2 linked regions of the Homo sapiens genome follow. The protein of the gene in region 2 purifies or fractionates together with the protein of the main gene of each other region. This does not show direct contact. Each region holds a gene or a part of one and is shown on either strand. Other genes may lie near its edges.

Region 1 (8,715 bases), on a different chromosome or scaffold from region 2:
ATACTGATGTTATATATAGCCTCAAATCCTCATACTGGCTCAGTGTGAAAAATTGAAGGCTTTTTTGGCGAAACTCACCTTCCAATGTAGAAAATATTAGGGGAGTGCTTATTTTTTTTTAATCTTGATAGGCACATACATAACAATCAAAGAAATACCTCACCCGGGCCATGAAAGGGGTAGCAGAGATCAGCTAAAGGCGTCATCTTGGAAGGGTCCAATCCAGTTCCTCCCAGCAGCTCCACAAAGTCTCCTATTCCCTCGCAACCTGCTGAGGATTTCTAAGGGAATAAAGCAGCAGAGAAAGACACATTTAAACCAATTACAGAAGTCAAACCATTTGACCAACAGCGGGTCCATGAATTCACTCAATCAGCCCTCAACATCCTGGCAATACCATTTAATTTAACATCTGGGACTCTGGAAATTAAAAGACATTTAAAAGAGAAAAAATCATAAAAATTGCTTTTCTAAATCAGTTGAGTAATCATTTTTTTTAGAAATGTGTGTACATGTTTTTTTCATTTTTTTTAAGCTCAAGGACTGGAATGATAAAATGGAAATCTGTAAACTCCATATAAGATGTGTGGAAATTCAACCAAAAAATGCTTTACTTTTCAAATCATTTGGACATACATACTGAATCACTCCAATTTCTTAATGCATGCAGTCACAGCTAAGCGAAGTCAAATACCTACATTTTATAAATAGGGCTTTCACATCCGTTTTTCCTTCACCTCATCTCTTTTCTTCTTCTTTGTAAAGGAAATTTGTGTGCTATTGGAACACCTCATTTCTAACAATAAGAATTTTGATTAATTATGAGTATGTTAAAGAAATAATAAAACCCTGATTTGGGGCCCAAGTTAGCTACAGTTACCATGATCTTTCTCCTTTCAACTAAAACAAATTTATTTCAAGCTACTCAAAAGAATTCATTCTAAAGCTTTGTGTGGTCCACCATGATCACCTTTTCCTGCTTCCCCCTTTTTTTTTTTTTTCAATTTTGTAGAGATGGGTCCTTGATATGTTGCCCAGGCCGGTCTTGAACTCCTAACCTCAAGGGATCCTCCTGCCTCGGACTCCCAAAATGCTGGGATTACAGGTGTGAGCCACCTCACCCAGCCTTTTCATTTTTTCCACACTGTCTTGTCCATAGCAATCCCCGTGCCTCACTTTCCAACACAAACAAAGCAACCACTCTTAGTCCCAAAAGTACTCTGAGCCCCCATCTCCCCAGGGCAGTCTCACAAGTATGCCACCTGTGCAGCCACAAAAAGCCAGTGCCTAGAAGGGCTCTATGCTTGGTTTAATGTTCTGCTGCATTTTCATAAAATTGTAATAAGGGCTCCCACATTTTCATTTGTACTGGTCCCCACAATTTTGCCTGTGATCCTCTTTTTCATTGAAGTGTGCTCATTAAGAGATCTAGTAGAATGTGACAAGGTGCTCAGTACTTCACTAGATAGACCTTAACACATAGGAACCAAAATCTAAAATAGAGAACTTAATACACACACACACCCACACACACACATAAGCACACACATTCAGGCATTTAGAAGGGCACTGACCAGCATGGTGGCTCACGCCTGTAATTCCAGCACTTTGGGAGGCCAAGGCAGGTGGATCATTTGAGGTCAGGAGTTCGAGACCAGCCTGGCCAACACGGTGAAACCCCGTCTCCACTAAAAATACAAAAATTAGCCAAGCGCGGTGGCACACACCTGTAGTCCCAGCTACTCGGGAAGCTGAGGTGGGAGAATCACTTGAACCTGGGAGGCAGAGGTTGCAGTGAGCCAAGATCACGTCACTGCACTCCAGCCTGGGCGACAGAGTGAGACTCTGTCTCCGAAAAAACAAAACAAAACAAAACAAACAAAAAAACACAGAAGAGCATTGGAATACAACTGGAACTAAACAGCAAATTGGAAAATAACATAATGGCAACTGCTTCACTAATGAGCAGGGGCAGGTGGGGATACATATTTTTAAAGGGCCTACCTACTATGTACTGGGTTTGATGCTTAGAGGCTTTATACATAATTGCATCAAATGATGAAAGAGGTTTAATTAGCCCCACTGTATACAGGGCTTCATGTTCTTGTATTGAGAGTGGAATAAGCAATTTAGCAGTAAAGGAAAAAAACTTTAATTGCCTTTCCCTTGAGTAGAGGATGTCCAGGAGGAACATCTCTTACAACTAAATTTTCCACTTAGTTTTATAGGTTCCAAAATTCAGCAGGTGCTGTTGCAGGCAAAAAGGCAGACTCAGGAGAGAGAAGTAGGAAATAAAGAAGCTAGGAAGAAATAGAAACTAAAGTGAGGGGAACAAAACAAAGAAACAAGAAAGTTAAGTGCACTTATTCCTTGCTGTTCAATGATTTTTCTCCCTTCTTTGCAAACCTCTCAGCTTTTCTTACAATGGCAGAAACTGAGTTATGCAGGGACCTCTCAAGTTCAGTTTCTCAACAGGGATTCCCTAAATTTCTTTGTTCAGGTTCTAAGCCACTACTATCTTTTGCCTAGCCCACAATAATGTACCAAAAAAGTACTTGGCCAGGAGCAGTGGCTCATGTTTGTAATCCCAGCACTTTGGGAGGCCGAGGCGGGCAGATCACAAGGTCAGGAGTTTGAGACCAGCCTGGCCAATATGGTGAAACCCTGTCTCTACTAAAAATACAAAAAAAAATTAGCCAGGTGTGGTGGCTCATGCTTGTAATCCCAGCTACTCAGGAGACTGAGGCAGGAGAATTGCTTGAACCTCGGAGGCAGAGGTTGCAGTGAGCCGAGACTGCATGTCTGCACTCCAGCCTGGGCGACAGAGCGAGACTCCATCTCAAAAAAAAAACAAAAAACAAAAAACAATAAAAAGTACTTACATTCCTTGTACCAAATGTAAGATCCTCACACCAACTCAATGTGCAAAATTGAAGGTTTTTTGGTTTTGGTTTTATTTTGGTGGAACTCATCTTCCAATACATAGAAATCTGGGAGGTTTAAGAAAATAATCTTGATAGATATGTTAATAATAACTAAAGAAACATCTCACCAGAGCCATAAAAAGGGTGGCATGGCCCTACAGCCCATTCATTGCATGGAAGCCACAGTGACGTTTTAGACAGCATACATCAGATCATGTTGCTTTCCTCCCTGAACTCTTTCAGTGGTTTACCACTGCACTTAAACTCCCTAATGTGGCCTGCAGGGCTCACCACACTCTGGCCCTGCCCATCTCCCTGAAGCTGTTTTATGCCAATCCTCCTCTTCTTTCCATGTCTGGAATCCAGCAAGCCCATTCCTGCCTCTGAGCCCCTGCACTGTTCCCTCTGCTCCCTGTTCTCACAGCTGCTGGTTCCTTCTGATCTATCACCCAGGTCTCACTTCTCAAAAGGTTTCTTTCCTGACCACTTTATCACAAGTAGCCCCGCGCCTCTCCATCCACCCCCATGCTCCCAGTCACTGTCTACCACACTACTCTGCTGCATTTTCTGTATAGCACTTATCACCAACTGAAATACATGGCAATTTTGCCTGTCTCATCCCACTTGAATGCAGGGTCCCTGTGAGCAGGACCTGTCTTGTTTATTGCTAATTTCCAGCATCTACAATAGTGCCTTGCACATGGTAAGCATTCAAAAAATATTTTGTGAAGGAACAGATGCCTAGAACACTGTAGGCTCTAAATTGTTCGGGAGGAAACACCAAGATTACCCCCATAGCCCCAATAACTAAAGTGCAGATCTCCCAGTCTGTGCTCACACCTTTCATCTTCTATATTTTACATCAAAAATGACATACAAATAATATCAAGCCAGTAAAACTGTACCAAAGATACCCAAAAATGTCCTTATCAAAGGACTATTCTTCCACTAAGTTCCAACTTAAAAAAAGCAGGCACTAGTCCATGAATTTAGGGCTTAAAGGAAATTGGATATACTCCTTTTCTCAGTCCTAGTTCTATTTATTTGGTTTTCACTAAAATCTGTCTGATTAGGAATTATGACTGCCTTTGATAGCAGCAAATACATGAGTTATCTTAACCTAGTCATGTGAGAAAGTAGAAGGAAATGAGGATGACTCAGAGGGAAAATGCTACCAGTGCAAGAAAATGCGGTCAAACTCAGCATGAATTTTAAGGTCCATACAGAAGTTTATTCAAAAACAAGTTGATAGGGGTTCTTGGCTAATATTTTTTAGGCAAAATGTATTGAGTTAAATGTCATGCCAAATACTTTTCAAAGCTTTACTGTATTTTGCAATCTAAAAATCCAATTTTGTATTTTATGCTACAGTTAGCACTCCTTCACAACGCAGTTCTGTCAATGAGATACTTCCTTCATGTCAAAAGAAAATTCCAATAATCAGAAAAACAGCTGTGTAGATGACTCACACTACGTTCTGCTAGGAGAGAATTTTTGTAAAAGAGGCAAGTACAAGAGAGTTCAATTGTAATTATATACCACAACTTTACCAATTGAAAACACTTCTTACATCACAGGGAAAGTATTCAAGTAGTCAGAAGGGGCACCTGAGTATGCAACTTGCCGCATAACTGAAATAGAAGAGGGGGTTAGTCAAAGCAGCTAGGGCAAACACATTTGAGATTTAAGAGTTCATCAGAGCAACGTACTACGCCAATTTGCTAGTGTCCAGGTTTTCCCTATATGATTGCTTCTGCTCTGATAAAGTTGTGGCCTTATCAAACGGTTAGGAAACAAGTAAGCAACTCACCTTTAACTGAAGACCATTTACGTGTCCCAGGGTAAGATCAGATATTTTGATCACCACAGGATAAATTATGGAGAAGCTGCAGTTTCGATGCTGGTGTGGAACTACCAGGGTAAACTTTCCATTTGGAGTCTGAGAAATGACATTGCAAGCTTTGTAGAAAAGAAAAAGAAATTCACGTTTCCTTTACTTGGTTTGCTAGGTTTTTATAGACATTTATTGTATCTTATTCTAGGGCTCCTGTTCATGATCTAGGGCCTTCTGCCCAGGAAGAGAGCATATATACCACAAAAGCAATTTGGAGACAGGAAGGATTTGGGGAACAAAAACCATCAGTGACACGTGGATATTGTCAGGAGGCCCTGGGCTGTGAGGGGGCTTCTAATGTTAATCTTAGGGGGTTACCTTGTTTATAACAATCACAAGACATAACACAGCACCCAAACAAATACTAGCTGGTAGTAGTTCTAGGAACACTTGAGTTAACTAGAGTCCAGCTTAAAGCTAGGAATCTGGAAAAATCGAGGCTTAATGGTGAGTCCAAAACTCAAACTCTGTCTATTTTTAAATAATAAAGTAAATAATTTTAAGTATTTTCTTTTTCATTCTTACTTATTTTCTTTTTTAAAAAAACTTAATTTTTATTTTAAAACTGGGGGCCTAGGATGCAGCTCGGCAGCTTCACCATGGCCCCAGGCTTATTTTAAGTATTTTTCTTTTCTTTTTTTTTTTCTGAGATGGAATCTTGCTCTGTCACCCTGGCTAGAATGCAGTGGCACCATCTCAGCTCACTGCAACCTCTGCCTCCCGGGTTCAAGTGATTCTCCTGCCTCAGCCTCCTGAGTAGCTGGGACTACAGACATGTGCCACAACATCTGGCTAATTTTTGTATTTTTAGTAGAGACAGGGTTTCACCACGTTGGCCAGGCTGGTCTCGACCTCCTGACCTCAAGGGATTCACCTGCCTCAGCCTCCCAAAGTGTAGGATTACAGGAGTGAGCCCCCATGCCAGGCCTATTTTAAGTATTTTTCTAATAGTGAGAAAATAGGCTGAGAAAAAAATGAAAGACAGCAGTATTAAGTCTGATAAATATTTGCTGCATGTTAAGTGATAAGTTAACTAAAAGGTGCATTTTTAATGTTTAATTTACTCCCAAGAACTTCTACAATTTTTTGTTTTATATCTCAAATCTAAATTTACAATACATTGGCCGGGAGTGGTGGCTCACGCCTGTAATCCCAGCACTTTGGGAGGCCGAGGCGGGTGGATCACGAGGTCAGGAGTTCATGACCAACCTGGCCAAGATGGTGAAACTCTGTCTCTACTAAAAACACAAAAATTAGCCAGGCATGGTGACGGGCGCCTGTAATCCCAGCTACTCGGGAGGCTGAGGCAGAGAATTGCTTGAACCCGAGAGGCAGAGGTTGCAGTGAGCCAAGATCGTGCCACTGCACTCCAGCATGGGTGACAGAGCAACACTCCGTCTCAAATAAATAAATTTACAATACATTAATTAGTCTAGATATGAAACTAGAAGCATCAGAATTTGTACTTTTTTTTCTGATTACTGGATGAATCAACATTGATCAGAACAGATCAGAAACACCTCTTGCCTCCTTTTCATATTTTTAATTATACTTACTTTCAAAAAGGACTGAAATTCCTTGATGGTTCTAGGAAGTTTCTTTTTTTAATAAACTTTTTTAAAAGTTTTAATACAGACAGGGTCTCACTTTGTGGGCCAGCCTGATCTTAAACTCCTGGGCTCAAGTGATCCTCCTCCTCGGCCTCCCAAAGTGCTAGGATTACAGGCATGAGCCACCACGCCTGGCCCAGGAGGTTTCTGATTTCTAACTAAACAAAATATAGGGGAAACTCTTTATTTTGTCTTCTAGAATTCTTCTGTTGCAGTCCTCAGGAACAGCCTTTTTGGGGGGCTTTTTCAAAAATTCTTTTGTTTTTTCAGAACTAGAAATCAAAAGATCAGTAGTGCATTATTCTTTGGCAGATAAAGGCCCCATCTTTCAGCCGCATGAAGTGTTACCATTAATTCTACTGTATGCAAAAATGAGTGATATGTGTTCCTTTTCTAATTTTTTAAACAGATTTTTCTCTTAATGGGGAAAAAACAATTAGCAGATGAGTAAATTCATTTTTTTTTTTTTTTGAGACAAGAGTCTCCCTTTGTCACCCCGGCTGGAGCGCAGTGGCGCGATCTCAGCTCACTGCAAGCTCCACCTCCCAGGTTCACGCCATTCTCTCCCAAGTAGCTGGGACTACAGGCGCCCACCACCACGCCCAGCTAATTTTTTGCATTTTTAGTAGAGATGGGGTTTCACTGTGTTAGCCAGGACGGTCTGGATCTCCTGACCTCGTGATCCGCCTGCCTTGGCCTCCCAAAGTGCTGGGATTACAGGCGTGAGCCACCGCGGAGTAAATATTTTTAGTAAGATAATATGCTTTAGACCTGGGCTGTTCAGTTGTGTAGCATAAGCTACGTGTGTGTCCATCATAAATGAATTGAATTAGAGTGGTGGGCTCAGAATCAGAAGGTAACATTGAGGTGCTATAATCCAACCCTCTGGTCAGGGCATGACATCGGTCTACCACATTCAGGCACAGGCTGAAAGACATGGAGACTTTCAAGCCTGTGCCTGAATATCTCTAAGACTGCAACTTTATATCTGATCACTCAAGCTTATCCTGGATTAGTGAAATGACTTGGAAGATTAAAGCTTATCACTAAATGCATTGTAGAACCTGAGAAGCTCAGAGCAAGACTTTGGAGAAAAGATAGAATTGTACTCTTCATAAATTAGTATACTACCTAACCTGGGAAATAAATTAAAAACTGTGATTTGATTTTCATAATAAAGAATAGAAACTATCCTTTAGGTCATTTCTAATTACAAAAAAATTTCCATTCAAATCATTCCTCAGTTCAAATTTCTTTAAGTCTGTGCAATGATACTACTTTCAAAAAGCGGGTCTATATCCGAAGTTCTGCCTTTTGACTGAGAACACTTACGAAAGAGGTTGGGGTCTGTCTTTATGGTTAATGTGAATCCATTTCCTGGTTCATGGACTCGGAAGAAGATCATGGCCACATTCTGGGAAGATCTGATGCTCCTCCTGCTAAGACCACTCTCACAGAAATCTATGTACCGCTCAGCTGAGGGGAGAGGATGATCCTGGGAACTGGGGAACTTCTCCCCCTTGAGAATCCAACCATCAAATACCTTTGAAAAAAATACAGACATAGATGCTATCATTTCCATCAACTCCTGAAGTCTGAAATGAGTTGAAAAGGGGGGGAAAGTCATCCAGCAATGGGCCTTCAGTCATAAGTGAGAATCGACAGTCCACACTCTGCCTGCTCGCCTTTTCATTTGTATATATTGGATGGTGAGGGTTGTTTGCAAGTAATAGTATTAATTAATTTTTTATAAGCCTTAAAGCTTCCAAAGTAAGTAAACTTCCTTATACTTTATCATTTCAACCACTTTGGTAAATAAAACAACGTACAATGTACATTTTTACCTTGGTCATATTTTCTACCTCTCACCTTCAGAAGAATTCCACAAAAGCATAATTTAGGTTTCGTGCAGCTTCTCTCTTTCCTCTAGTCATTGAAATGTGAACAAAATATCTTGAAAATAGATAGCAAAAGAAAAAACTGGAGCAGCAACTTTACCTGCTAATGACTATATACACCCATTTTTCTCATTTTTTAAAAATATCATCACATATTACTTTAAAATGTCAAGAACTGCTTCAACAGCCAGGCAATGATGGCTGGTATGCTACCTGGAACATTTTTCCTTCACTTGTTAAAGTTTGCAGTTGAACAAAGGGTCAGAGTCTATTGACTTGACCCTCAAAATCACCACAGGTCTCCAGTTTAACGAGTCCAATCTAGTCCACATTAGCAAAATTACCAACAACCCAGCTACAAATTATTTCTAACGCATGTGACAGGTTCC
Region 2 (8,715 bases):
ACATTCCACACAGAGAATAGGGCTATATGCAAAATACAGGGACTGGGTGACCAAATTTAGCAAATAAAAGTACAGGACATCCAGTTAAATTTGAATTTCAGATAAACGACAAGTAATTTTTCTACTATAAGTACATCCCATGCAATAATGTTTACCTGAAATTCAAATTTAACTAGGTATTCTGTATTTTATCTGGCAACCTTAGTGGGAACAAAAAAGAGAAAAGTTCAGGAAGCTTTACACAGCTTAACTTAGAGTATGAATGAGATGACAGAAGATGTGTCATGAATGATAAGCTAGGGCCATATTACAAAGGATCTGTGTAATAAGTTTAGATCTTCCCTTGTAGACATTGGAAATCAGCAAAGATTACATGTGTGAAGGTGGATAAGAGAGAGAACAGAATGACACATGGTCAGATTTTTCAGGGATGTTGTAATGGCAAGAAGTATGGAAGAAATATTGGTGGCAGGGAAGACTGAGCTAGAGTTGGGGACACCAATTTGGATCACAAATTGTGCAATCTTCTGTTTATCATTTTATAATCTTTCAGGTTCTCAAATTCTGATCAATAAAATAGACAATGACCTCTAAAACTTGTTTCAGCTCTCACAAATTATAATGCTATAAATCTAAGTGACTGTGATCAGAAACAGAAAGAGGATCCAGAATAAACAGATTCAGAATTAGAATGTCTCAGGAGGACCCTGGGAAGAAGATGTGACTAAGGGCCAGGGACAAAATAGGATTCCTGAGAGAAAAGACCAGAAGTCTGCACCAAAAGTTATGATCTTGACCACAAGTCAACGCAGAAAAGAACTTCCTCTTTCAGAGAGTGAAACAGCCTGGTACAAAGAGCTGTATCCCTGAAGCCCAGGGCTTTAAAGAGCTTCAAGAGTAGGGTAGCTGCAAAGACCAAAGGAAGAGACTCATGCCTAAAACCTGCAGTAAATGAGACATTTTTAAAAATGTAACTTTACAGGTAGTATTGAAATTGCCTCGTACATCAATAATGTAAGCTGAGCTACATTATAGAAGCAAGGAAGAAGAAAAGGATTCTGCTGAAAGGAGAATGAGAAAGGCAAAGACCTAGGAATAGTTTATGGCTGAAACCTCTCCCATTTATATCCCTGGGTGGAAATATGGTCACCTAAGATCAAGAAGCACAAAGGAAAGTAAGTCAGGTAGGGAGGACTTGGTTTAGCCAGTCTGTCCACTGTCCCCTTTGTTGAATAATAACAGAGGAATGGACTTAGTTTCACAGAACTCCCATTCGACAGGACAAATAATTCTTTTTGACAAGGTATTAAGCATCATAATTTTCTCTAATAACACAATGGGTATTTCTTATTTAAAGATTCATTAGAGGGTTAACCCCTAATCAGAGTTTAGATACAATTTTGAAAGCAGTGACAGGCCTGGCTAGGTGGCTTATGCCTGTAATCCCAATACCTTGGATTGGGAGGGCTGGAGGCAGGAGGGCTGATTGAGTCCAGATTGAGACCAGCCTGGGCAACATGGTGAGACACCATCACAAAAAAAAAGAAAGAAAGCAGAGACAAACAGAAACAAAACAAATCTTCCGTGATTCACAGTAATTTGGGAGTAGAAAAATGAACAAATAATTTTTATCTTATATGAAAATAAAACATAAAAGTAAAAACAAGGGGATTATTGCAAAATCATTTACCTGAATTATTTTAGTAATCATCAAAGTGAGCTAGACAAAGGAACTTTACCTGTTTGGGACAAACCACTGGAGCCAAGTGTGCCTGAAAAGTACTTCTTCGGTCTGTAATAGGAATGCCATGATCAATCGGAGGTAATTCTTCTACTTCTACTTCTAGAAATGTAAAAGAAACTTTATTTTTTAAAAAGCCTTACATTCAAATACTGAAAAAAATGAAATGGGGGGGCAGCTGGGAAAGAAATGTAAATTACATGGCAAATCAACTAAAATAACCATTAATCGCTATCTACCAAAATTAAATTTAAATTATAATTTTAAGTAAAAAGTTTCTAACTATATTGTACATAAGATTAAAATACTTGATTTATAAATGATTTCCACCTGCCAAGGTTACCCAGGGGAAGCAGTGGGTTGGGACTAATCTTGAACTGCTGCAGTCAGTAGTGTAAGTTGGTACAATATCTAATATATAATTTTTAAGAGTGTAAAGGAGTCCTGAAACCAAAGATTTATAGCTGCTAATATAAAATTTATTTATCAGTTTCACTGTTGTTAGACCTCTGAGTTGGGAAAACTATGAATTTATATTCTTTATATTGTGTAGCTATAATATAATGCCTTCTGCTAATGAAACTGTTTCTACTTCATATGATGGAATTAAATACATCAATAATACATCCAATTGGTATTCCTTAAAGAGCATCATGATTTCCAGTTATTATACCTCTTAAAACAAGTTTAAGGATCATGGCTGGGCGTGGTGGCTCACGCCTGCAATCCCAACCCTTTGGGAGGCCGAGGGAGTGGATCACCTGAGTTCAGGAGTTTGAGACCAGCCTGGCCAACATGGTGAAACCCCCGTCTCTACTAAAATACAAAAATTAGCTGGGCATGGTGGCGTGTGCCTGTAATTCCAGCTACTCGGGAGGCTGAGGCAGGAAAATTGCTTGAACCTGGGAGGCGGAGGTTGCAGTGAGCCGAGTTTGTGCCATTGAACTCCAGCCTGGGCAACAGAGCAAGACTCCATCTCCAAAAAAAAAAAAAAAAAAAAGAATCACTAATTAACCCTCAATTCTGTTGAGAGACTTAATCGTCCTGGCTACTACTACCTGCCTCACTTAGGATGAAAAGTTATTCAAGACAAGAAAGTAGGTTTATGTAAGATGTTTTACACCTTCCCTCTGATACTGTTCTTTTCCTGAATTGATTTTGACTGCTGTACTAACATAGTAATAAGTCAAATACAGTATTAGGGTCAATATGAACTACTGACCAATTGATAGTATTTATTTATGAGTATGATTTTTATCCTTTTTCTTTTCATGGTAGATCCTGTTTTCAAAAGATATCATATGTCAAATCCACACACAAATAAATGATTAAAATGGGAGCTACTTAGGCTAGAGCATAAATGAGAGCCCTGGATGCTCCCCACTCTTTCATTTCCTCTTTGTTCCCTTCTACTAGTCCTGGACACCATTCAAAAGCCTTAAAACTCAGAGCACCTTTTAAAAGCTACTGTGTAATGACACAGGAAACCCCTCACCTTCAAACAGAATGAATATTCCCCCTGGTCTACCATGTTTTCCTAAGAGGCTTAGGGAAACTAACAATAACATTCAAAATTTTAAAATATTAAAATGAAACATAATATCACAGCAACCTATTTTTATGTTGAATACTACTCGATTACGAAACAAATTTGTTTAAACGAAAACTAGGCCGGGCGTGGTGGCTCACGCCTATAATAATCCCAGCACTCTGGGAGGATGAGGTGGGTAGGTCATTTGAGGTCAGCCTGGCCAACATGGCGAAACCCAATCTCTACTAAAAATACAAAAATTAGACAGGCATGGTGGCATGTGCCAGTAATCCCAGATACGTAGGAGGCTGAGGCAGGAGAATCACTGAACTTGGGAGGCAAGGTTGCATTGAACTGAGATCGTGCCACTGCACTCCAGCCCGGGCAACAGAGCAAGACTCTATCTCAAAAAAACAAACAAACAAACAAAAACTGAACTCAAGCTGGGCACAATGGTGCATGCTTGTAGTCCCAGCTACTCGGAGGCTGAGGTAGAAGGATCACTTGAGCCCAGGAGTTCAAGGTCAACTTGGGCAACACAGCGAGACCTTGTCTCTCAAAAAAAACCTCTTAAAGGCATTTTACTAGCTTTAATTTCCAGGGCTGCACTTTCAGTTAATATATTTGTATTTGTGAGCACAGACTAAAATTTAATCCTGAAACATCAGGAAACAGCTAAGGATTTCAATACAGAAATATAAAAACATGATGTTAACTAAAAACGTTAATAGCCTTTCTTAGTTTCAATTTCTTCCATCACTAAATCAAAACTCTAGAAAGTAGGGGGAAAAGAGTAAATTTCCATTTTTTCCTTGCCATTCTGATAAGACTTGGCAAACACCAAAATTGCCAACAGGCAGGAAAAAATTAATCTTATCTGCAAATTAATAACTCCTTCCTAAAACTGGAGAAAATTAGTAAATTTCTCTATCATCTCAAAGAACAATACATAATACTACCAACCCACTCTCCTCAAAAGAAATTAGTTAGTAACATTATACCTGTCCGAGTTTCACTGATATCAAAATCCAATGCTTTAAGCGAACTTTCCGGCTGACATGCTAAAATGAGATCATCTTCACATTCAACATCTTCCTCTTCAGTTTTCTTCTTTACATCTGGGCCTATGTGAATATGAGACACAATTACTTTATGACGCAGGTAAGAAACGATGCTTTTTAAAAAAAAATCACTGGGTCTTGGGTTCTAAATACCACTCTTCAACGAAAGGAACCAGCACTCAGCCCGTAGGAGAACTGGTTGATTCCTGAGTTGGAGCAAGGAAACTACAAGATGAACCTGGAACCTCATGTGGATCCACAAACTGGGAAATGCTCAAAAAGAGATGGGGCTTATAAAAAGAACACAGGAGTTAACCTGAAGGGGCTCTTAAAGGTCAAAGCTAGAACAATTTGAGCAACAAAAAAATATGATAGGATGGCATTTTAACCCATGGACTGAAATAATATACATGAGTCCATACTGATATAAATAATAAACAGATAAATAAATACATAAATGGGAAGAGACATCCCTTCCTCATAATAGAATTCCAATTACTAAATGAGGAAGGAATGAAGAAAATAGAAAATCATCATCAGGCAAACACCACAGTAATAAATATTGTTGACAAGTTCCATGGATAGATACTAAAATTAGTGGCAGAAAGTTTAAGGAGAAACAGGATATTAGCATAGCTTCAAAGTATCTCCCTCAAGCTACAAAGAGAAAGACAGTGACTGCAATGGTTAATCTTACATGTCAACTTGTCTAGGCCACAGTACCCATATATTTGTTTACTTTTGTTTGACACAGAGTCTCATTCCGTCACCCAAGCTGGAGTGCAGTGGCACCATCTCAGCTCGCTGCAACCTCCGCCTCCCAGGTTCAAGTGATTCTCCTGCCTCAGCCTCCCAAGTAGCTGCAATTACAGGTGCGTACCACCACGCCTGGCTAATTCTTTTTTTTTTTTTTTTTTTTTTTGAGCCGGAGTCTCGCTCTGTCGCCCAGGCTGGAGTGCAGTGGCGCGATCTCGGCTCACTGCAGGCTCCGCCTCCCGGGTTCACGCCATTCTCCTGCCTCAGCCTCCCGAGTAGCTGGGACTACAGGCACCCGCCACCGCGCCCGGCTAATTTTTTGTATTTTTAGTACAGACGGGGTTTCATCGTGTTAGCCAGAATGGTTTCGATCTCCTGACCTCGTGATCCGCCCGCCTCGGCCTCCCAACGTGCTGGGTAATTCTTGTATTTTTAGTAGAGACGGGGTTTCACCATGTTGGCCAGGCTGGTCCTGAACTCCTGACCTTAGGTGATCCACCCACCTCGGCCTCCCAAAGTGCTGGGATTATAGGTGCAAGCCACTGTGCCCAGCCTCAATACCCATATATTTGGTTAAACACTATTTTAGATTTTTCTCTGAAGGTATTTTTTGGATGAGATTAACAATTAAGTCAGTTGAATTTGAGTAAAGCAGACTGTCTTCCATATGGGCCTCATCCAATCAGCTGATGGCCTTAACATTAAAAGACTGACCTCCCCAGAAGAGGACATTTTTCCAGCAGACCATCTTTGTTTTCAAACCGCAACATTCATTCTTCCCTGGGTCCCCAGCCTGCCAGCCTATCCTGCAAATTTTGGACTTGCCACCTTCCACAACTGTATAAGCCAATTTCTTAAAATATATTTCTCTCTCTTTGTGTGTGGGTACATACACACATGTATATACACACATATATTCAATTGGTTCTGTTTCTCTGGAGAACCCTGACTACAGCATTTACAGTGGAGACATTTGGCGAACACCACCGTAACCGAGACATCAAGGTAAATATCACCAATAATAAGGCATATGATACAATAGGCACAGTGACTCACACCTGTAATCCAAGCACTTTGGGAGATCAAGGCAGGAGGATCACTTGAGCTTAGGAGTTTGAGATCAGCCTGGGCAACATAGGGAGACCTCGTCTGTAGAAAAAATTTTAAAAGTAGCTGGGAGTACACCACCACTCCCAGCTACTAATCTCACTCCAATCATGAGAAAACAATGGACAAACCCAAATTGAGGGGCATTCTACAAAATAACTATCAGTAGTCTTCATAAGTGTCAAGGTTATAAGTCAAGGAAACACTGAACAACTGTTTACAGACTAAAGGAGAGTAAAGAGAAACAACAATGGAAAGCAATGTAGAATCCTAGACAAGACCCTAGACAGAATGGGACAGCCCAAGGTTTCATAACATTTTCAGAATGGCACACAATTTAAAACTTATGAATTATTTCTGGAAATTTCCATTTAATATTTTCAGACAACAGGTGACCACAGGTAACTGAAACCATGGAAAGCCAAATCTCAGATGAGGAGGAATACTGTAATACAAAATCAAAGAGGCTAAACCTTATAGAAATAAATAACTATAATTACATGAGCAATTAAACTTTTCAGAGAAACTTGTATTTTATAATATACAAACCATAAACCAGAATACAGATTTTCACATTAAATTTCAACTAGAGTATCTACATAAAAATGTAGTTATTATAAGTTAAAAGAGTATTGATAGTATTTTTCAATCCTACCTGGTTCTGTCATCTGAGATTTTTGTATAAGAACATCTCTTATTTTCTCCACCCACAGGTAAAGAATACTTTCACCGATATTCTGACTAAACAAAATTCAGGGGAAAAAAAAAATTGTTATTTCAAAAATCATCTTCTCAAATTCAAGAAGATACAGACATTTGCAATCCAAGACATTATAAACAATCTAACCATTTCTTTTTTAAAATAATTTATAAAAACCTGGGGTTTATCAACATTTGTGTCTGAGTAGTTAATACAGGTTATAGCAACGTTAAAAATTCCAGTTGACTCCAAAATTAACATGGCTTACTTTAAAATAAGCAGAAGAGCTGTAACCAAAGAGGGGAATAAACATTTCCAAACTAGATGGATTAAAGAAATATAAATGTGACTTAGTTTCTGTAAGTGGATACAATCTTTCAGTATCGATGTCTGATCACTGCTTGCTTTTTTAAAGTTTTTTAAGAATTTCAAACCCCTTATTTGGTACACTTATCATTTAGTATACTTATCTCAACAAGAAAGAATGTAAAGCATATGGGAAACTCCTTCAGGGAGTCAATTTACAAGACCTAAAAGACAATTCAACAATTTTATATTCATATCTTGTTTCTGACAAAACATTCTATTGCCTAAATTGATTCATTTTGGTTCCAAATGATGTTTGGTTGCCTCAGGTAACTAAATCCATCTCAAAGGATCACTGAGAAAAAGAATGTGTCACAGGTTTTAAAGTCATGTCCATAGTTATGTTAAATGATGGTAGCAGCAATAAAATAAAGGCCCAAGTGTCTGCTCTTTAGAAAAAGACACTAATTGTAGTAAGTATGGTATGTGTTTAAAGATATCACCACACTACTATATAGCAACACCTCACCTCCTTCCTCTAAAAGTTTCCCTTGAAACCATTATCTCTCTTTATCACTACTCATCAGCACCCACCAAAACTTTCGAAACAAGAGACAGAAGAAAACAACATTGTTTTTAAATAATTCTATACCCTCAAATCCTCCCCATCACACCCACAATTCCTAGTACTAAAACTAAATACTTGTATTGGTTGATATAACAGTAAAGCTATTCACTAAAATGCACTAAGCTGTGTGAAGTTAAACTAATCACTTGATCTGAGTTTCTGTCACCTAATTTTCAATATTATAAGCTGGATGAGAAGATTTTTGAAATAAGAACATCCCAGAGCCGGGCGTGGTGTAATCAAAACACTTTGGTGGGCCGGGGTGGGCAGATCACTTGAGCTCAAGAGTTCGAGACCAGCCTGGGCAACTTGGCAAAACCCCATCTCTACAAAAAAAATACAAAAATTAGCCAGATGTGGTGGTGCGTGCCTGTAATACCAGCTACTCAGGAAGCTGAGGTGGGAGGATTGCTTGAACCTGGGAGGTGGAGGTTGCAGTGAGTGGAGATCGTGCCACTGCACTCCAGCCTGGGCAACAGAAAAAGACCCCTTCTCAAAACAAAAACAAAAACAAAACAAAAAAAAACAGGCCAGATGTGGCAGCTCACACCTGTAATCTCAGCACCGTAGGAGGATAGCTTAAAACCAAGAGTTTGAGACCAGCCTGAGCAACAAAGCGAGACTCCGTTTCTGTAAGAAATTAAAAAACTTAGCCAGGCACAGTGGTGTGTGCCTGTAATCTCAGCTACTTAGGAGGCTGAGGTGGGAGGATCACTTGAACCTGGAAGTTTGGAGGCTGAAGTGAGCTATGATTGCACCACTGCACTCCAGCCTGGGCGACACAGCAAGACTTCATCTCAAAAAAATAAAAAAATAAAATTTTTAAAGAACAAAAAAATGATAGCTGCTAGTTTAATGCTTACAATATTATCCCCTTTTTACAGA

What was found.
Region 1: the proteins of IMPACT (region 2) and CRHBP purify together in Homo sapiens (affinity purification with mass spectrometry; 2 studies listed by BioGRID and IntAct, with this or other methods). This does not show direct contact.

The regions. Positions count from the first base shown.
Region 1 is NC_000005.10:76,954,909-76,963,623, reverse strand, and holds part of CRHBP (corticotropin-releasing factor-binding protein), read right to left. Parts: intron 7,972-8,715; coding exon 7,761-7,971; intron 4,884-7,760; coding exon 4,735-4,883; intron 282-4,734; coding exon 164-281; intron 1-163. UniProt on the Homo sapiens protein: Binds CRF and inactivates it. May prevent inappropriate pituitary-adrenal stimulation in pregnancy.
Region 2 is NC_000018.10:24,436,177-24,444,891, reverse strand, and holds part of IMPACT (protein IMPACT), read right to left. Parts: intron 6,938-8,715; coding exon 6,852-6,937; intron 4,397-6,851; coding exon 4,274-4,396; intron 1,844-4,273; coding exon 1,740-1,843; intron 1-1,739. UniProt on the Homo sapiens protein: Translational regulator that ensures constant high levels of translation upon a variety of stress conditions, such as amino acid starvation, UV-C irradiation, proteasome inhibitor treatment and glucose deprivation.